Linked DNA regions of Homo sapiens: regions 2, 3 and 4 are each linked to region 1. Evidence: fine-mapped expression QTL. A gene starts in region 1. Each other region holds a variant in brackets. All regions are shown on one strand. Distances are between the middles of the regions.

Region 1 (5,298 bases):
GGGCTTATTTACCGCATTTCCAACAACATCGTCTGCTTTATCATACATTTCAAAGCAGGGATAATTTAAGTATCCAGAACTTCATGCATAAAAATACTTGGTAAGAAGGTCTCTCTCTGCACACTATTTGGGTGATGTTACATCCGAATTACAGTTTGCTGCCCAGGAAATGATTCACTTCACTCAAAAATGACCGGGGTTCTGAATCATTCACCTGTTATGCAAAACGCCTTTCAGGTCAACCAATTTGCACCTCGTGGACTTCACCACCATCATTTCACAGAGAGCACAAAGATGAGGCAAGCCTTGCCTCTCCCATCTACATGTTTCCCCAAGGAAAAGCATGGCAGCAATTCACTCCCACCCCTCCACACCCCGCCTTACCTTGAAGTAGCTTTTCCCCTTCTAGAATATTTTGGGAGATTAATGCCGTGTAATCATCTTCAGAGAACCCAGCCTTGCAGGTCTCTCTAGTTGTAAGATCCTCATTATGGGCCTGAGAACACAAAGGGGAGAGTGTAAAACAATAAGTTCACAGAAATTTAATCCAACCAACATTCATCCAGGGCCTGCTGTGTAAAAGGTCTCTGGCTAAGAGAGAAAGGCTGGCAGGCCACCGTCTCCACCCAGACGCGATACCCCGTCTGCTCCTCTGCTCTCTGGGGACTTTAGGGAGCACTCTCCAGGCTACAGACCAGGAGCATCCTTCCCCAGCCCCACACACAGCAGGCAGGGAGTGAAGGACGGACTGTTGGGGAAGCCAGGCCGGCCAGGGCCTTATTGGCAGAGGAGACGCCTGAGAAATGACCAAAAGGCAGAGACAGAAGACTTCAGCCGCTGCTCCCGAAGCCACTAAGGGCAGGGAGGCCAAAGTGTGGGCGGCTCTGCTCAGACCATTCGCGCTTTAGGCCCACCGCTCTGCGCTCTTGGTAAGGCGGAGGAGGCAGCTTCTTGTCTCCTCTCCAGGTCACCGGGAGGGAGGAGAAAGAGGAGAGAAAGGAAGAAGATTCTCTAGGACTAGGTCCGGAGCCGGTCGAAGAAGGCAGCTCTGCGGGAGGCTGCCGGTGGCTGGGGTGAGGAGGCAGTGGGGGCGCTTCCACCTTCTAGTCTTCAGCCCGCATTTTCACCCTCGGAGCCCCCATCTCCAGCCCAGGCAGGGAGACGGCTCCCCTAACTGACCGGAAAGGGGGTCTCCTCCTGTCCTCCGGAGCTCGCTCGCCTTTCCTGCTCAGTGGGGAAGTCTAGAGCCCATGGCACAGGGCCAGGGAAGGATGGGGTGGACGACAGGGCCCTCCGACCAAGCTTCTGGGAGGGGGCGTGACAGGCAGGAGGAGGTGGTGGAGGGAGAGGCAGTGTGTGCAAGCGGGAAGCCAGCCCCGCTGAAGGAGCAGGAGCACAGCGGTGCTTGGCTCCCCGGCGAGCGCAGGAAGCCTCGGGTGCAGCCCGCACCGGGCAGTGGCGCCTCCCGCCCGCCGCCTCCTCCAGCTCCGCGCGCTGCCGTCGCCCGCCCATGCTTCGACTCCGGAGGCCGCCCCCAGCCCGGAGCTCCAGGCTTCCCGACGCCGGCACCGCGGAGGGCGCCCCTCTACCCCCAGCACCGAGGGAGGAGAGCGGGACGCAGGGTCATTCCTTACGAAAAGCTCTAAACCGCGGCTTTCTTCATCGGCCACGAAGCTCCAAATCGCACCCGCAGCCCGGTGGGAGGCTCAACTCGCCCAGGAAAGTTTCCGCCCGCCCGAAGCGTGTGCCCAGCGCGTCCCCCAGCGCCCCGCGGCCTCGGAGCGGGCCTCCCGCCGCTGGCACTTGTTTATTTCCGAGGTTACAACAGCGCTGCCCGGGAGAAGGCAGCGAGGCCGATCGGCCACGAGAGGGGGTTCCTGCAACTCCCGCCGCCCCTCCGCCTCCGCCCAGGGGCGCCCCCGGAGCCGCCGCGCTCTCTGCCCCCGCGGGCCGCGCACCTCGCCAGGCGCAGAGCAAAGCTGGCAATCCGGCCCGCGGGGCTCTGCAGAGGCAGCGGGAGACCCGCTCGCCCTCCCGGGGCGCCCTCCCGCGCCGCGCCCGCCCGGCGTCCGGCTTCCCGGCCCAAGCCCGGCCCAGCTCCCAGCCCCCGGGGCCCCGCCGGACACGCAGGCTCCAGCCCCGCCGAGGGCTCGGGGGTGAGAGTGCCCCGCAGTCCTACCCCGCCGCCCACCCGCAGCGCGGGTCCTGCCGGCACCCACAGAACTGAGCGGCGCCGCTAGACGGACCCCCAGGCCTTGGGCAGGAGAGGTCGGGCAGGCGCCCCGCACTCGCGGATCCCTGGCCCGCAGCCGCCGGGCGCCCCACGCCTTCAGCCACGGCCGGGGCTGGGCTCGGCAACTCCCGCGGCGCGCGGCTCCCGGGCGATGGAGGGCGCGCCGGCTCCGCCAGTGGAAGCCTGCCCCATGCAGGCAAGCCGAGCTCCGGGTAGCGGCTACGGGCTTTGGGCGTTCGAGGGAGGCTCGGCGGGTCCGGTGCAGGCGGAGCTCCCCGGGTCCTCCACCGAGCCCCACTCCCACCCTGCTCCGCCGCTCCCCGCTGCCCAGGCGGCTTCCCGCTCCTGCCGACCGCAGGCAGCTTCGCCGAGCGCGGGCGCCGGGCTGGATGCAGCGGGGAGCGCGGCGGGGGAGCCCGGGAGAGCCCCGCCGGGTGTGTGAGCGCCCCGCGGGATCCGGGGACGACCTCCCGCTGCCCGGGGCTTCCGAACGGCGGGGGCGGGAGGCGGCAACTTACCCGGAGCGCGCCGGAGAGCGAGAGCAGCAGAAGGAGCACGCCGGCGCCCGCGGTCATCTTCCCCGCCGCCCGCCCGGTGCCCGGCACCGGGAGCCCGCTCCCTGCCGCCGCCGCCGCCGCCGCCGCCGAGACCACCGCCGCCGCTCCGATCGCCGCCGCCGCCGCCGCTCCCCCGCGCCTGCCCGGAGCCTCCAGCCCCGCTGCGCCCGCCGCGCTCGCCGCCCCGGCTCCGGGAGCCAGGCCAAGTCCGGCCGGCGGCGCGTTCCCTCGGGCCGGTGCGTCCGCCGGCCTCGCAGCCGCCCGCGCCTCTGTTCCGCGCGCTCGGAGCTGCAGGTGAAGCCGCGGCCGCCCCGCCGAGGCCCCGCCCCGCCGCCCGGCCCCTGCGCTCGCTCTGCCGACGCGGGCCTTAAAGGCGCAGAGCCCGCGCCCGCGCCCCCCGCGCCGCACCAGCCCAGCCTCTGCCCTCCTGGACGTCTGGAGCCGCCCGGTTGCGGCCGAAGAGGCCAAGGACGCTCGTTTTCCAGGGGAAAAAGGCGCGGGTGTGGAGACTGAAGACAGCGCTGGGGTTTCCGCCCCCACACCCGGGGCACCCTTTCTGGATGGGGCGGTCCCGCCGCGGTCTTAGTCCGACTTCCCGCCCGGGCCCGCGGTGGGAGTGTGCACTTCCATTCTGTCCTTTTATTTTTCAGGTGTCTCCTTGCTAACTCCCCTGACCCGGGCTTGAACCCAGGTCGGGCAGCTCAGGGGTGAGAGTTTCCACCTGGAGCAGATGAGCAGAGGGCCACGCTGAGATTTCAGCCTGTGGGGCTTTGCAGACCCTCCCGCTCCTAGGAAAACTCAAAGCCCTGGCCTGGGCTAGGGATGTACCCTAGGATTGGGGACGGTAGTAATTCCTGTGTGTGCATCAAAACACCCTGTTAGGCCTCAGAAGCCAAGAAAGAAATTAGAAGCTCCAAGAAAGAAAGAAGTGCCCAGACAGGAGCTGTCAGGAGTGTCTGCGCCGACAGGCTGGGCCAGCTCCAGCTCCCTTTGCCCTGCATGGGTGATGGCTGAACTGGGGGGCACTTCTTTAAGGGTTATCAGGTAAAATATATGTACAGGTCGGACAGTGAGTAAATGTTTCTGCACTTTTCCTTTTGGCTTGGAGATTTAAAGAAACGCGGTTTTGTTTGTTCAGATACATCGAATTTTCTTTGTCTGGGGTTTCAGGGACTCTGTGTCCAGAATACATTAGTTCTGGTTTAAGAAATAGGTTGCAAAGGAGAGGGTGGAAGATTGAGTGACACTGTTGAGCTCCAAGATCAGAGTCCACTTGGGCAAGCCAGTAGAGAAAGCTACAGAGCAGCCGCTTCCCTCTCTCCCTCCCAGAACCCCCACCCTTGGGGGCAGGGTGGTCTCCCGGTTAGAGCTCTGCCTTACGCTTAAGGAAACCAGATTTTAGATAACCCCAGAGGACCAGAGTAAGCACTACATCCGAGAGCACAAGGCGAGATTCGGTTTTGCAACTTAACTATGGAACTAGTCAGGAGACACAAAATCTGCCCCAGCCTGGACTCCTATCAGTTATGGCCTTGTCCCACTCCCCACCTAGCCGAAGAAGGAGAGGTTACCAGTTGACATGGCTGGAGGTTTAGACTCACTCGAAGGTCCTGCGTAGCCAGTGAGGTTTCATGAACAGATCCATCCAAAATCCTCATGGACAGAGAATTCCATTCCTCGGCCATGTGCCCGTCCTTTGGGAAGACGCCCCCTCTGCTTTCCTCCTTATTCAAGGTGCTTCACCACTGCTCGAGCGACATCAGAAGCTGTCCAAGACTGCTTTAGACACCAAGACAGCTCTCTTGTCTTGTGTCCCTGGTCTATTTTCTTAAAATATCTGTCGCTGGGGATACACCTTTGTCTGCAGGAGGCCTGAGCATTATGCGAGTTATTTCTTTGGAGAGGCATCACAGACCCCCGCATTTGCTCCAACGTGCTCTGCGAAACTGTTGAAGCGCTGAGGAGCGCGCCAATTTGAAAAAGAAAAGGTATGAGTGTGTGGCAGGGAGACTGGGGTCCAGGAGCAGGTGGGTCCTGAACTCCAAACACTGTGTTAAGCACATCTCCCTCTACTACTGAATGAATCTTGAGTCTACTGCAGCGTGATTTCCAGAAAGGGTAGAGTTTGACAATAGCCTGTCCTTACAAGGTGCTAGCTATGTGCCAGGGACATGTGTAGGAGCTTTATGTAAAGTTGCTCTTGGAGTCCTTCTAACTCCACTATACAGTCAGGCAGAGGAGGGTGCAGAGGGCAGGCACGGGGAAAGCTGCAGTGCCAGCATTCTCACCCAGAGCTGGGACCCTGGCACACGCAGCATGGCCCCAACTTTGTTCAAAGAAACCTTCTTACACAGCTGTAATGTCTTACGGGAACTCGCATTTTCCGAAATACATAGTTTCAGAAACACTGCAGTAACTGACAGGAGTCCAGTAGAGAGCATTGGTTTATCAGACTTACTCTGAATGCAGCAGCAAAGATTGCTGAGACAGAAAAGAAAAATATGACCT
Region 2 (5,298 bases), 710 kb before region 1:
CTTCTCTCTGGGTGCATCTGAGGAGGATGTTGAGAATCATGTTTCCTGAGCTTATTTAGAAATTAAAAACGCAACAAAATACCAGGAACACACTCGTGAGGATGGGACCAGGACGAGTGTCGGGAGGGCACGGAACTCCTGGAGGTGCTGGGGTGTGGACTGTGGTTCACACCCTTCTGGCAGTTTCTTAAGGGGTTAAACATGCGTCTCTCACCGCTGCTTCTGGAGAAATGAACACAGGTGTCCAGCAAAGCCTTGTACAAGGTTCACAGCAGCTTTATTTTACCCCGCAGTGGAACGCTTGCGACAGCAGGAGCCCGCTGCTTCCACTTGTGGGAGATGCTGGGCAGCGCAGTGATGGGAGTGAGGAAAGGCCCTTGGGCACCTTTGTCGATGGGGTGGGAGAGGCCTGCCAAGGGCGTGAAGAAACTTGGGTGATGGAGAATTATCTTGACTGTGATGGTTTCACAGGTGTGCAAAGTGTCGAAACTTTCCGCATTGCACACTATAAATATATGCAGGTTACCATACGTCAATCAGGTCTATCTCAATAACGCTGCAAAAATAAATGAATGAAAAATAAAAAAGCTGCGTTCGTGTGTGGAGACAGGAACATGGGAGGTGCCAAATGGAAGAAGCAGAGGTGCGGGTGGGGAAGAGGTGAGGGTGGGGCACTGGGGAGGGGGAAGGAAGGTGCAGGGAAGGGGAAGGAGGGTTCAGGGAGTGGGGAGGGGGTTACAGGGAGGAGGGATGGGTGAAGGGGGAGGGGAGCAGGGGGTGCAGGGAGGAGGGGAAAAGGCAGCAAGGGGAGGGGGAAAAGGGAGGGGAGGGGGGAAGGGAGGACGGGGGAAAGGAGGAGAGGGGGAAAGGGAGGGGGGAACGGAGGGGAGGTGGGGAAAGGGAGGAGGGGGTAAAAAAAGGGGAGGAAGGAAGGGAGGGGAAGGGGGAAGGGAGGGGAGGTGGGAAGGGGTGCAGGGAGGTGGCAGGTTTGATGGTGCTGAGGGGCGGGGTGGGGGGCACTGCTCCTGACCCTGGTCCAGGTCCAGCACTGTCTGCTGATGCTGGAGGTGGGGTGGGAGGTCCGAGGTGGGAGGAGGGAGGAGGTCTGGTCCTGGTGGAGGGACCTTTCCATCTCTAGGCTGCAGGGGTGGTGGGGAGGGAGGGACGTACAATATTGTTTCGCCAACAAGCGTCCAAGGAGCTGGAGCTTGCTGGGCTGCCAGAGTCCCCTGAATGTGGCCCAGTTCTCTAGCAGGGCCTTCCACTCTGTGCTGCTCTTCCCCTATGTCCTCTCAAATGCCACCAGCTCCAGGAAGCCCTCCGCCTCCGTCCTGAGCACTCATCCCCTCACCAGCAGCCCTCTGGGTCACTTCAGACTTCACTTCTTGGCCACACTGGAGCCCTGGTGGTCCCTGGGCCGCCTCAGAAGCTTATGAGAAATGCCACGTGATGACTGAGGGGGCCCCGTGTCTCCCGGCACAGCGCCTTGCACGGGCACATGGGGCCAGCAGGCCCCACCCATCCTACCCGCTCGGGGTGGACCCAGGGGGGTGGGTCATGTGGCCTGGCTTGTCTTGGTCACTGACACAAGCTGAGGGATGGCCGTGACCTCAGCCTGGCCAGTCCTGTCTCACCCAGACATGTTACAGGAACTCCCAGAAGGACACTTCATGTTTGGGGGCTGGCAGGACGTCAGCTCAGTTGTCCAAGGACTGCCACCGTGGCCACTGCGGGGCAGAGTGTGGCTGAGACCAACACAGAGGCCGAATGAAGAGCCAGCCTTGATGGCATCCCGGAGCGCCTGGATCCAGCCGTGCCTGAGGACTGGCGCCTGGATCCAGCCGTGCCTGAAGACTGGCACTGGGTCTGTTTTCATGGTTGGGGGCAGGTGGCTATAAGAATGCCACACACCAATTCCAGGCTGCGGTGGACCCAGCCAGCCACGAGAACGAGCTCCCAGGAGCTGAGGATGGAGGGGGAGCCCGACATTGCAAGCCAGGCCCTGGAAAGCCAACTGCCCAGTCCTCGCTGCTGCCCTGCCAGGGCCCCTCCCCGCCCTTCCCCTCCCAGGGTAGATTGAGGGGAAAAGAAGCGTGGGCCCCAACCCTGGTGGTGCCGAGAACCCTTGCCAGAGAGACTTTGGGGAGCGCTCCCCCTAGAGGGGATGTCAGAGGCTTTTGGACACTCGGTGTGTGGGGAGGTGCTGAGACTCCTGGCGGGTCCTGAGGGCTGGATTGGGGCCACATGGTGGGGCTGAGGCCCACCCCTTCTGAGGGCCCCAGAGGGAAGGGTCCCCACACCCCCTCCTCAGAGCACCCACTTGCTGCGTTTGGGGAGGGGCTAGTCGAGGCCTCCCTGTTCCTCCAGGGAGAGTCTGGCTTAGGCCCTCCTCCGGATGCAGATGGCCCTTTCCCCTGTGAGCCTCAGTCTCCTCATCTCTGAAATGGGGACAGTGGCAGCACCACCCAGCGCCCGGGTGGCCGAGGGTTGACCTCAGCGCACTCGCCCCCACCTGGCCGCAGAGACAGGAACACAAAACACGCAGCTGCCCTGCGGGGTAGGGGACACGTGGCAGGCCAGGGGAGGGGCGGGGCCGGAGGGTCGGGGTCGGGGCTAGAGGGCTGGGGGCGGGGCCGGGGGCAGGGCCGAGGCGGCAGGTGGCAGCGCGAGTTCGCGGCGGGTCTGGGGCGGACACAGGCTGTGCCTTGTGGGAGCCGAGGAGGAGCCAGGGGCGGGGGGCCCGGGGAGGAGATCAGGCTCG[A/T]GCCCGTGGGTAAGGCCCGGGGCGGGGCACCTGGGCCTGGGATGCTGGGTGCATGGTGGGGGCCAGGTGGGGGGCAACGGGATGTGAGTGGGGGCGGCCGGGGGGGCCAGGGAGGCTGGGGAGGCGGGACGCGGCCCGTGTGGGGACGCGGGTGCCGGGTGGAGGGTGCCGGGGACTGGAGTCCCGGTGCGCCCCGCGTCCTTCGTGGAGGACACCTTCGCCTCCTCCCACCCTGCCTGTGTCCGTCTACACCTCCCCAAGCAGACACCTGGCCCGTACCCCGGGGTTTAGAGCCCAGGGCAGTCGCAGTCACCCAGGCTGACTCGCGGGAGGGCTGCCGATGTGCCAGGCTCTGCGGGGAGGGGAGGGGTCACAAACCTGCCACAGTCCCTGCACGTCGGGTCGTTGCCGGTGGAACTCCTGAGAGGGCACCAGACGTTGGAACCCAAGAGGCATTTGGCACCACAACCCCCAGGTAGAAGAAAAAAGGAAAAAGGGGCCCAGGAGGACGCAGTCCTGCGAACCCCGCGAAGGCTTATCTCCAGGGAGTAAAAGACTCGGGGACCCCCCGCCTTCCCGGACCTCAGGGCATCTAGGGTCCTGCAGTCGCCTGGGGTGGTGACACCCGGAACGGTGTGCAGGCAGGGCAGGGCAGGCGGAGCCAGCACCGACCGCATCTCCAGGGGATCTTGCTTCTCAGAGAGGAGACTCTTCCCAGAAAGCAAAACAGGCGGGGACACCCTAGATTCGGCAGCAGCTCCCAGGAGGAGGGACTGCAGGGACAGACTCGGGGCTTCCTGGTAGGCAGGTGGGTGGGAAACTGGCTCAGCCTCCACCACAGCAGCTTGAAGCACAGCCACCAGTGCCTGAGAAAGGACCTCTGCTCTTCCTAAAGCCAAGGAGGCTCCGTGAGGGTGAAGCGGGGCCAGACCCCACCCCAGCCACACAGGGCTTTGGCTTGCCGTCTTGACTCCTCCAGCAGTGACTTGAAGTTTCTCAGCTCAGTTTAAAAAAACAAAACAAAACAAAACAATAAAAAAAAAATTGGCCTATTGCGGTGGCTCACGCCTGTAATCCCAGCACTTTGGCTGGCTGAGGTGGGAGGATTGCTTGAGCCTGGCAGTTTGAGACCAGTCTGGGCAACAAGGCAAGATCCTGTCTATATAAAAAATACAGAAATTTTCATGCATGCCTGTAGTCCCAACTACTCAGGAGGCTGAGGTGGGAGGATCACCTGAGCCCAGGAGTTCAAGGTTGCAGTGAGCTGTGATCATGCCATTGTACTCTAGCCTAGGGGTGGACCCTGTCCAGGACCTAGGGTCTTGAGAGCAAGACCCTGTCTCCAAACAAACAAACACCACCCCAAACAAACTCAACTAGGAATTTTACTGGGATTGCATTGAATCTACAAATTGATTTGGGGAGAACTGACATTTTACATTATTGAATTTTCTAATCCAGGAATATGGCATAGCCATTTATTTATGTGTTTAATTTCACTGTGTAGTTTGCAGGTGGAGGTCTTTCATGTCTCCAATTAGATTTATTTCTAAGTATTTGGATGCTGATATGGTTTGGCTGTGTCCCCACCCAAATCCCATCTTGAATTGTAGCTCCCATAATCAGCACGTGTTGTGGGAGGGGCCTGGTGGGAGGTACCTGAATCATGGGGGTGGGTTTTTCCCGTGCTGTTCTCGTGATAGTGAATAAGTCTCATGAGATCTGATGGTTTTATAAAGGGCAGTCTCCCTGCACACGCTCTCTTGCCTGCCGCCATGTAAGACGTGACTTTGCTTCTCCACCTTCCGCCATGATTGTGAGACCTCTTCAGCCACGTGGAACTGTGAGTCCATTAAACCTCTTTTTCTTCATAAATTACCCATCTTGGCTATTTCTTCACAGCAGTATGAAAATGGACTAATACAGATACTGTTGTAAATGCTATAATTTTAAAGTTCGTGTTCTGTTTGTTTGTGCTAGTCTACAAACACTTGATGGATTTGTTTTTTGGGTATATTGACCTTGTCCCCAGTGACCTTATAACTCCACTGATTAATTCTAACAGATTGTTTATCTATTCTTGAGGCGTTCCTCTGTATGCAGCTGTGTCATCCGTGAACAACCACATTTTATTTTTTTCCCTTCCAACCTTTACATCTTTTATTTTTTCTTGCTTTCTGCACAGGCTGAGGCTTCCAGGCCAATGCTAAGAAGAGTGTGGTCCGGGGCCCTTGCCTCCTTTCCATCTCCAGAGGAAGTCTTCCTGTGCCTCAGTAAACTTTCTGATCTTCATGCAAGTCCTGTGCTTGGCTGGGTGGGCTTTCCTAAGGCAAGTCCCTGTGTACTGTCCTGATATTTGTTGTACCCTGGGCACGGAGGGGCTCAGCCAAAGCCTCCTGTAGCCCAGCCCCCCAGTTGCTCCCCTCCCTTCGGGATTGAGAGAGGGAAGCAGGCCCCGGCGGTGGGTGTGGTTTGGTGGCGAGCGGCACTCCTGTCTCCTGTGCCTCCCGGGGTCTCTGTGTGTTTTGTCAGCAGTC
Region 3 (5,298 bases), 51 kb before region 1:
CGATCTTCACTCTAGAAGCCAAATATACAGATATAGATCATATTTTCAGTTATCTCTGAACTCCCACGGATCTCCTGGCGAGCCATTTGCCAAATCCATTTGTGATGTGGCAGCATCTTTCATGAAAATGACAAGCTCCAGATCAAGGTGGCTCCCTTCGATCTTGATGTTAACCCAGCCACTTAGGTGCACGTGAGCGGTGAGCTGGATGACATCTGGAAATGCACAAACTCATGGCCACCAAAGCCCTGGGAAGCTCTGAGACCAAGGGGAAGAGAGAGGTTCGTGAACCGAGGTCAAGAGAATTGAAAAGAATCAAGGGAGTTTTATTTTTAATAACTTAGGAATTGGTCCAGGGACTTGGAATGTCGTGAGGACCTCAGGCTGTTCAAAGTCTTGCTGCAAAAGTGTGGTCCCCACACCAGCAGCATCCATAGAGAAAAAGTGTTGGAAATGCAGACTCTCAGGCCCCACCTCCCCCGGGAGTGGGAATCCGCATTCAGCAGGATTTCCAGGGGGTTCACAGCACACTGATCACTAGATGCCTGAAGACTGTAAGGTCGCTGCATAAGATACGGCAGGTGCACTGGCCCTGCATCTCGAAAGCCACGCTGGGTGGAAGGTTTCTTCCCCCTCTGCCCCCAGACAAAGAAAAACAAAAATCACAAAACAAAAAGGCAGGTTTATAGATCCACCGAAACACACACTTACGGACAGTCAGGCTCAACATCAGAGATGACGCTGAAAAATACTCCCCACACACAATACAGGCCCAGAGCACACACCACACACACAGTGCATACACAACACACACAACACACTGCACATACACAACACACGCACAGAACACACACACATACAACACACATGCTGCATGCCCAACACAGGCAACACACTGTACACACACCCACGCACAGCACATGCACAAAGCACACACACACATACAACACATACACTGCATGTACAACACACGCAACATACTGCACAAACATCCCACACACAACACACGCACCGAACACACACACACACAATACACGTGCTGCATGCGCAACACAAAGGACACACTGTACACACATCCCCACACACAATACATGCATTGCACACACACACACAACCCCACACACACAACATGCACACTGCATGCAAAACACACAGCACACTGCACACACAGAGGCTCTAGTACATACATAGTCTAGAAATACATCGTCTCTAGTTGCTCCTGGACTTTATAAACCTCCTGCCAATAGCACCCCTTCTGCTGTCCTTTTCTCTAGGCCTCTTAATATTGTTATGGCACAGCCAGGCCCTCTAGTACAATTCAGAGTTCAAAACATACAAAACACACAGCATATGCACCATATACAACACAACAAACACAGCACATACACACACATTCACACACACACAACACGACCAAAGGCGTCCTGTCCTCCAGGGGCTCATCGTTTAGAGAAGCCAACCACGCAGACCATTATGAAGCAATACAATGTAATATGAAATAATAAAACTAGGACGCAGAAAACCAGTATCAGAATGAAGTAAAATAACAAAAACTGGCCACTTCAGTGATTACCTAGGAAGTCACTCCTATAACGACCACACCAAAGAACGGGGGGTTGGGGGGGTGCCGTCCACTATCTTCAATCCAAAATGCTGACTGCTGAGAACTGCGTTCGGAGGATGGGCAGAGAAAGACCTAAAACCAGGATTCGTCTTCATAGAAGCCTGGGGCTGTGAAGACAGTTTCCTGATCTGCAGCTGAGGAAAGGAATGCCTGGCCTTTTCCTTCCCAGGCCCCAGGACACGGGTTCCTTGAGGGTCCCATAGAACTGGGGACATCACCACCCAGAAAAACGTGTGAAATGAAGCCACTGGCAGGAGCCTATCCCTACGGCCGTGTTAACCTTCAGAAGAACAGCCCCAGGTCAACTCCGTTCCGAAGTAGCCTCTATTATTTAAGAGGAGGTGCACGTGTTGCCTAAGTAAACAAAACAGGATGGCACCGTGCCCATCGGACCTCCTGGGATCCAGGCTGCTGCTGAAGG[C/T]TCGCTTTCCAGCTTGCCCCACTGGACTTCCGTGGGCTCCTCCCACTGGTGCCTCCGTGTCCCGGGCCTGGGGGTGGGCACAGATGCACAGTGATGCTCCACATATCTCAGCCCAGCTCCTACCTCCTCCTCCCTGCTCCCCTGAAAAGAGCTACAGGGAAATTAAGCAATGGCGCTGGAGGTGAGAAGGCAGAGAGAAGAGGACTTCAGGAGAGCTGGCACCGGAGAGAGCAGACACCCCCCAAATCACAAGATGACCAGTTGGGGGCCCACCTGGATCCCTGTCCTGCTGCTGCAGCCTTGCTGGGAACCCAGGAGAAGCAGGAGGGTGAGGATGAGGCAGAGAAGGGGAAGAGGGGCAGCCAGAGGAGCTGGAAAAAAATGGCAAGAGCAGGGCCAGACGGGGCAGGGCGTGGATACGGCTGTGCCTCGAGCCCCTTGCTGTCCCCCACCCCTGCCCTGGCTCTTGCAGAGGACTCGTGGCCTTGACCAGCACCAGGCCAGGCACCTGGACCAGCAGCAGGAAGGCCACCCCAGCAGCAGCTCATGGCTAATATCGCCCTCCTTGACCCAGGCTGGTGACACATTCACCATCTCGCCCATCCTCACAAGAACGCCTGGGTACCACTCTCCACTCTTGTTTCACAGCTGAGAGAACAGGCATAGGAAGGGGAGCCACATGCTTTGGGTCTCAGGGTGTATCTGCTTCCTACTGTGGCCGTAACGTCACCACAAACCCCATGGCTTAATGTGAACACTTATATCTTGCAGGTCTGGAGGCTAGAAGTCTGATATGGGTTTCCCTGGGCCAAGAGCCAAGTGTCAGCCATGCTGGGGAGGCCCCAGGAGAGAATCCTTCCTTGTCTAGCCTCTGGAGGCACCTGTGTTATGGGCTCATGGCCTCTTTCACATCACTCCAACCTCTGCTTCCCTCCTCACATTTTCTCCTCCCAACCTTGACCCTCCGGCCTCCCTTTTGGAAGGGACCTTGGGGTTCTATGGCACCAACCAGGATAACCTCCCATCTCGGCATCCTTCACTTTCATCACATCTGCAGAGTCCCTTCTGCGGGGCAAGGTGAGACATTCAGAGGTGGAGAGATTAGGACTGGGGCATCTTTGGGGGTCCCTGTTCTACCTCCCATGCTCAGGGAACCGAAACAGGTGTGTCTCACACAGACCCAAATGCTGCAGCCATCCCTCCGGGCCATGCAGGACATGGGAGGCACCAACCAGTCTCAGGATGACTTGAGGGATGGAGGGGACAACAATGCCGATTCCCTGCCCCCACCCCCAACCTCAGTCAGACCCTCCCATTCTCCTGTGAAGAATGACGTTTGTGACAACAGACCCCCCCCAACCCAGGCCAAGGAAACACATACAGGAAACATCCTGGATGCTTTTGCTTTTCACCGTTCATCTGAAGTTAGGCGTTAAGCTTGTTCATCACTTTGGCTGGTTTAATTTTAGAAAGACCTGCTTGCAAAGTCTTGAAAACGCATAATGAATTGGCAGACAGCAAACACATCTGCACCACAGTGAGGATACGGACTGCACACACAGGAACGTGACAAGGTCCCCAGTGGCTAAGAAGATGCCCAAAGCAGCTCCCTGGCCCTCACACGGAAACCGGCCCTGTGGTGAGGGCTCGACCATGAGCTGCAGGTCACCGCCCAGACCTCGGCCTACTAAATGCTCTCTCTCCCCACAAAAGGGGCACCGTTTGTAGTGGAGTCTCCTTACTTTGTCAGTCGGATCTGACTTGCAAATTAAAACAATCTGCTTTTACCTTTGCATTAGCCTTTAAATACTTAAGTTTTAATTATACATAAGTCTACCTGGAGACGTTTTGGGCAACTTCCAATATTGTCAGTCAGCAACGGAAGTATGGCGTAAAAGCGCATGTAATTTCCAAACCCCCGGTTGTTAATGAAATCCCAAACATTCAGATTTTAATTGAACTAGATAAAGATTAAGAAGCTTAGCAGCAGCTGGCAATACGAATTAGTTCTCAGCAGAGTTTTATGTTGTACTCTAAATCATGGCTTTTGTAATCGCCCTCAATTGTCCTTTATCTTGCCAATGCAGATTCGATTCTCAGGGACCATCAGGCTTCCTGTCTCCCCACTGCCTGAAATATTTTGATGTGTAAAGTCTTAATAGTAATTTTAATAATATTATGATCTGTGCATATGATGTATATTCAATAAATCTTTACACTAATTAGAAGAAAAGTCGGGGCCTTTATGAAACCTATTTTTAAAGCTGAGTTTTATGGCCGGAGAATAATCGCTTGAAACGACTTAAAAAGCAGCAAAAACTCTCTGGAGGTCATATGACCAAGGCAAGAGGCCTCGCGAAGCATCGAGAATTCAACAGAAGGGTCTGCCCCAAATGTCAGCAAAATGCACACGCCCAGGCCAGTGAGTACCAGCAGCTGCCCATTTAAATAAAGGGGCAATGTGTTTTCAAACATGGCTGCTGTTTTCCCAAATGGCCAACATATGGGCAGGGCACCACCGCTGGCACCACTGACAAAATGTAAAGGCCCCAGCACTGTATCCCCTTGGTTCCTGCCTGACACAGCAGCCCTCAGGCATTTACCGCATCCATTGTGGAGACAGGCCAGGCTCAGCTCTCCTCCTTCACTTTCTAGTGACCACGGCAACCACCTTGCTAAACCGAGCCTCGCTCCTTCCATCTGTGAAGCGGGCTGAGGGCCATGGGCTTTGGCACCTTCACAGAGACACTGCAAATGGGGAGTTGGGCGCAGCCCCGGGCACACTGCGAGGTAAGAGTCGTGAGCTTTGAAGTTAATGGGATTAACCGTGGGGTGAGTCCACGGCTGCCCAGCAGCTCATGTGAGGAGGTGGGAGGGCCCTGCTGCCAGCTGCAGGGGCCGGGGGAGGGAGCAGCCGCCCATGGCTGGTGCTCCGGGCTTTGTACAGCTTGAACTGCTCCAAAAGGAAGGGTGAGGAGGAGGAGGTGGGTTTGTTTCCCAGGGTCCCTACCTCCTGGTGGCTCTGCCAGGAAGCCAATGTTTTTCCACCTAAACAGACAGTTGTCCTGGGAGTAGAAGAGACTGCCTCGCCCCTGACAGGGGACCCATGAGTGTCCTGGAGAAAGGGGACATCCCACCCAGAGGGCAGCAGGAAGGCTGGGTGTGGGGGCCAGGGGTCCTGTGTGGGCAGAACAGGGCAGGAGGAACACTGGACAGAGGGGACACAGACCCGGGAGACGGGTCCAAAGGGCCA
Region 4 (5,298 bases), 760 kb before region 1:
AGGTGCAAATCATGCCTTCCTCACCCGCTCAGGACTGCGATCGTCAGGGCACAGGGCAGGCCTCCCAGCAGCACTCCCGTGTCCAGCGGGCTGGCAGGTGGCCGGGGTCCTTGGCTTCCTGGGCGTCCTGGCCACCGCAGGGAGGCTTGTTTTCTTTTGCTGGGCGTGAGGCTGGTCTCCCCCTCGTCAGCTGGTGGCGTGAGATGCCCTTACCTTGTGTTTTTGGATTCTTGTAGCCTCAGCTCGTTCTGGGTGGCGCTGCCCAGACGGCTTCACTTGGGACGGCGACGGCTGTTCAGACGGGGACTCCTCAGCGCACGGTACCAGGGGCGACCACCACTTCCTCAGCTGCCACGGTAAGAGCCACTCCTTTCCGTGCCTTCAAAGACGGTCAGGCCCGTGGCGCAGGTCAGAAAATGCAGCCTTGAGACCTCAGGCCGGCTTCTGTCCCAGACCGCTCACTGCTTGCTTCACAAAGCAGTGAACAGTCTGGGGCCCACGTGAGCACGTGGGGCTCTGCTGCTGTGCTGTGTGAGGTGGGCTCCGAGGGCCTTAGACCGCAGAAGTCTGCAAACAGCAAAAGCCCAAACACCTGCCTTTGAAAAAGTCACTGGTGCACTGTCGCGTTGTATGTAAAACAGCAGCGCCACCCGTTTGTACACACTCGTAGTGTCGGCCTGTATCGATACACATCTTTATTAAAACAGAAGAGTCACTGGTGAACTGTTGTGTTCAGTGTGTAAAACAGCAGCGCCACCCGTTTGTACACACAGTGTCGGCCTGTATCGATAGACATCTTTAAACAGTGGGCCCCACTTGACGCCTTTTTGGTGTTTCTTTGCTGCGTACTTTTCGTTGCTTTAGTGACCGCATCCTATTTGGTTCCTTCTGTGTCCGTTTGGATTGGCATAGGTTGTCCTTATGGTCAGCAACATTGTAGCAGGCATCTTCGCAGAGTCTCTTTTCACTTTTTTAATTATTTGCATAGCTGCATTCCTAGATGTGGCCTTGCGGGGCTGAGGGAGATGCTGACTTCGGTGGCCATGTGACTGATGTGGCTGGCCTGCCCCATGGCCCAGGGTTCCAAGAGGTGGTGCGTTTTCTTGAAAGAAGTTTAGAGAAGAAATATATGTATCTTTTGTACATATGCATATTTTAGTAACCAAAGGCTGTGACAAAAATCTGCCTTTTAAGATTTTTCACTTATATCTTTTTACTTTAATCCAGGAAACTATGGAAAACGTGAAGAAATGTAAAAATTTCCTATCTACGTTAATAAAACTGGCTTCATCTGGCAAGCAGTCTACAGAGACAGCAGCTAATGTGAAAGAGCTCGTGCAGAATTTACTGGTGAGAAACCTTGACTTTACATTCCCTTTCCCCTAAAGCCTGTTGCATAGGACAGACACCTGTTGCTGCTGTGACCTGTGCCCGGGAGGCCTGTGCCAGCAGGGAGAGCTCCTCTGGAAGGCTGCAGGCGAAGGGGAGGGGTGCACACGTGTCGAAGGCGTGTGTGGCCTAGCTAAGGAGACTCCTTCCTGGGGCTGGGTGTTCTGGGGCCGGCGCCTGGAGGTCTCCCGGGCTTTGCCGTTTTCTGGTGCCTGCGTCCCTTGTCTGTGGCTCTCTTCTCCTCTGGCTGCCCCAACCATGCTGCACTCTGGTCAGGGTCTCCAGCAACTCCCTTCTGGCCCTCTCCCCACTCCTGTGTGACCTCTTATAAAATTCCCAGGTGTCCGCAGTCCCGGCTGGAACAGGCATTCTGCACCCTGAGCCACCAGAAGCCCCCTCCCCATGGAGCAGACCAGCTGAGGCACATTCGCGCTCCAGTGGCAGAGCCGTCCCCCCCACCCCCACCCCTCCCGAAACCTCTGTCGCAGAGAACAGCACTCTGTCCCCTGGCCGGAAGGTGGGAGGGAGGATTCCTGGCAGCCTCCCCTCTCCTTAACCCACAGTCCCAAGCTCCAGATCTCCACTCATGGCCGAGCTCTCGGCTGTCCACCTTCCTCAGCCTCATGGCTGTCTCGTGGCTCAGGGCTGTGCTGGCGTCAGTGGGATGGCCTGGGGATCTGGAGTGGCTGGTCTTACCGTGCCTTCTCCTTGTCCGCCTGACCATGTCTTCCGGAGTCTCTTAGGGTTCAGTCCAGGCACCGCCTTCCCGCCTTGTCGCCTGTCTTCCCGACCTTTATTCCACACTGGCCTCTGTTTCTGAAACAGGATCTGGCCCTCTTGCTCTGGGCTCCCTTTTGTCTGACTGTAGACTCTGGGCACCCTGGCCGCTTGCAGGGGTGAGCACAGCTGTCATCTGCTCCTGAAGGCGCGGATGCCCTGACTGTGTGGATCCTGTCTGTGTGGCCCCTGGCACGCTGTGACCTCCTGCAGCACCGCACTTGCAGTGCTGGCTTTGATAATGGAGTTACTTTTAGGCTGATCTGCCTCCTAGCAAAATGCCTGACACCGAGTAGGTGCCTGGTAAGCACTGAGTAAAGACTGGCATTGAGTAAGAGACTTAGAAAAAGACGAGAAGTAGACAGGTGACCCTCCCAGGAGGAGACGTGGTCCGCAGCTGGCTGCACTGCAGTGTCCAGGGTGAGCGCCTGTCACACATGTACCTGTGAAAGGTGTAGCACGCAGACTTTCCCATCTCCTCTGTCCAGTGAAACTCGGGGCGGAATCAGCCGTAAAATACGAGACCAGAGTGATGCGGGATTCAGAAGTGTGTGTGGAATCTCATTCACCAGAATTTCAACATGGATTTTATTTTTAAGGATGGAAAAATAGAAGCAGAAGATTTCACAAGCAGGTTATACCGAGAACTTAATTCTTCACCTCAACCTTACCTTGTGCCTTTCCTGAAGGTAATTTCAAAGGCCCCGGTGCCTGCGAGCAGTAGGGCCAGGGAGGGGTGGGGCGCAGATGC[A/T]CCAAGTGTGCAGGGCGAGGATGCTCCAGGCACGGAGGGTGCACAGCGCTTGTGCTGCCTACGGGGGTGGGGCCGGGGACTCAGTGCCTGGGGACAGAATGTTAGTTTTTTTTCTGTAAAGCAGGAGCTCCCCTGACACGGTGGCCTTGTGGTTCTGTCGTGCGCAAGGTGGTGAGAAGGGCGTGTGCTTCCTGAAAGTGAAGGGGACGGGGAATGGGGTAGCGTTTGCAAAACTGGATAGGACCAAGGGTTTCAACAGCGTCAGGCTGTCTCTGTTGGGTAATCATTGGTATCAGCACATTTTAAAAATCAATACGTATATTTGTACACATTTATGAGGTGTATGTGATGTTTTGTTACAGTCATAGATAGAATCAGGATATTTGGGGTCTGTCACCTTGAGTACTTATTTCCATGTGTTGGGAACATTCAGAATCTTCTCTTCCAGTGATGTTAACATATTTTAAAAAGTTTTTTAAAAATATGTCTCTTTTTGTTTGTTTTCTTGAACACATTTTGGACATTTGCTATCAGGAATAATCCCACTTAGTGGGAGGGCAGGATGGGGTCCTGGCCCTTGACATCCAGACATGCTGCCGTGAGGGCCAAGATCCATCTTACTTAGCTCAAAAGCTTTCTGTAAAAGTTGATATTTCTGAATTTTTAAGCAAGGAAAACCGACGCATGAGCAGCCGCCTGACCCCTCGTGTCTGTCTTTCCACCCAGAGGAGCTTACCCGCCTTGAGACAGCTGACCCCCGACTCCGCGGCCTTCATCCAGCAGAGCCAGCAGCAGCCGCCACCGCCCACCTCGCAGGCCACCACTGCGCTCACGGCCGTGGTGCTGAGTAGCTCGGTCCAGCGCACGGCCGGGAAGACGGCGGCCACCGTGACCAGTGCCCTCCAGCCCCCTGTGCTCAGCCTCACGCAGCCCACGCAGGTCGGCGTCGGCAAGCAGGGGCAACCCACACCGCTGGTATGGAAGGGGCGCCTGACTGGTCTGCACAGCCCACCGTGCCTCTGCTCCCGCCCGCTTCTTAGATAAATTGGCCACGGCTCAGAAACCTTTTCCAAGCATGCAGGAAGCCTCCTGCTAGAGGAAGCTTGGGTATTACCTTAAATAGTTAAAATAGAAACCAGAGGTTGAGGCCCTGGGATGTTGTATTTTGTCTCAGTAAAATGAAATAGTTGAGTTGGCTTTGAACCACCGGCACGTCCCCGCCCTGCCTTGTCTGGGGATGTTACTGGTGTAAATGAATGCAGCGTGCTTTTAGAGGATCTTGTAGATAGATGTTCTCTTGGATTAGGAGCAGCGGTCCAAGCGTAAGACACGGGCACCTGCGTGGGACAGGTGGGCAGGAGACTGGAGGCAGGGTAGCAGCTCACAGCACAGGGTGGATTTAGGTGAGTCCCGGGAGGCGAAGCCGCGGCTGCTCATAGCGGTTCACTTATGTGCAGTTTGGATCTGGCTTTCTTGGTTTTATAGTCATGACGTTTGCTCTGCAGCTAGAGAAAGGATGTCTTTGCCAGAAGAATTACATTTTGAGCACATTCCCTTTCATGGGCAGAGGGATTCACCAAACGTAGAGGGGCAGTTTTAAAAAAATTTCAGAGGTGTTTTCTTCCTCTAAAGACAGCTTAAACAACAAAATGGTGCGGGCTCCCTCATCATGAGCTGGTATGTGTTGTGATGGTGTACACATCAGAACCAGCTGGGTGAGGAGTAGCCATTAGGGGGCTGGCTCTTGTGCTCTGTTCAAGTTGCATTTGTTTTTGTCTTGATAATAGCGAGGAGAACAGGGTGAAATGGCATGGAGGGAGGGTGTCCCTTATAAAGGCCAGGGAAGGGCTGAGCGCCTGTGTAAAGAGAGGGCTTCCTTGCCTGCCTTTTGACTCCAGAGGGAAAGAGATGTGCCGTGCCTCTTGCTTTAGTGTAAGGACAGAACTTCCCTGTTCACTAGTCAGTGGAGCTACTTTACCCAAAAAGGTGGGTTCTGTTTAAGCAGGCACAGCCTGTGGGCAATCATTTTCTTGCCAAGTTTTGACCTCTGGTGCTTAGTCACACACAAGCAGCATGGGTGTTTTTAGAATTAGGTGCTGTGTTTGGCAGCAGGATCACCTCTGCATTCTGCTTCCCTGGGCTCCTCCTGACCACGTGTGAGTCTGCAGAGCACAGCCAGTGGGATCCAGGGCATCCAATCCATTGCCTGCACCCTGAAGCCTGTGGAGGCAGAACCCAGGCTTCTCCCTGATTCGATGACAGGCTCCCTGCACCGCAGGGCCTGGCCCGGGCATTTGATGGCAGGTTCCCTGCGCCGCAGGGCCTGGCCTGAGCATTGCCTGAGCTGCCTGAGGCTCTTCCTGTCCAGTGTGGGTGTTCCT

Alleles and levels. Alleles are on the strand shown, and positions count from the first base shown. SD is a standard deviation of normalised expression in the study named.
For the expression in pancreas of the gene that starts at base 3,061 in region 1, T is the low allele of the variant in region 2 and A is the other (moderate effect, 0.51 SD a copy in GTEx).
As copies of C replace T in region 3, the expression in nucleus accumbens of the gene that starts at base 3,061 in region 1 goes up (moderate effect, 0.41 SD a copy in GTEx).
In carriers of allele A in region 4, the expression in prostate of the gene that starts at base 3,061 in region 1 tends to be higher than with T alone (small effect, 0.39 SD a copy in GTEx).

What was found. PIP is the estimated chance that this variant, and not a neighbour inherited with it, causes the effect. A credible set is the group of variants that fine-mapping cannot tell apart.
Region 2: its variant is the best candidate, but not a certain one, in a credible set for the expression of CDH4 in pancreas (GTEx, PIP 0.62).
Region 3: its variant is the best candidate, but not a certain one, in a credible set for the expression of CDH4 in nucleus accumbens (GTEx, PIP 0.56).
Region 4: its variant is the best candidate, but not a certain one, in a credible set for the expression of CDH4 in prostate (GTEx, PIP 0.75).

The regions. Positions count from the first base shown.
Region 1 is chr20:61,250,024-61,255,321 of GRCh38, reverse strand. CDH4 (cadherin 4) reads right to left here and starts at 3,061. Exons shown (of 16, transcript NM_001794.5): 1 at 2,752-3,061; 2 at 385-496. The coding sequence starts at 2,808. RefSeq lists an enhancer at 265-957.
Region 2 is chr20:61,963,233-61,968,530 of GRCh38, reverse strand. No RefSeq gene overlaps it. Among named protein-coding and RNA genes, the nearest start is that of MIR1257, 12 kb to the right of the region's middle. RefSeq lists enhancers at 1,873-2,502, 2,503-3,131, 4,034-5,233 and a silencer at 4,391-4,591. The variant A/T (reference allele first, on the strand shown) is at 2,762.
Region 3 is chr20:61,300,591-61,305,888 of GRCh38, reverse strand. The region is part of intron 2 of CDH4 (cadherin 4); the gene reads right to left. Among named protein-coding and RNA genes, the nearest start is that of CDH4, 51 kb to the right of the region's middle. The variant C/T (reference allele first, on the strand shown) is at 2,046.
Region 4 is chr20:62,005,104-62,010,401 of GRCh38, reverse strand. It overlaps TAF4 (TATA-box binding protein associated factor 4), which reads left to right. Exons shown (of 15, transcript NM_003185.4): 4 at 237-356; 5 at 1,228-1,350; 6 at 2,766-2,855; 7 at 3,644-3,892. Among named protein-coding and RNA genes, the nearest start is that of MIR1257, 54 kb to the right of the region's middle. The variant A/T (reference allele first, on the strand shown) is at 2,918.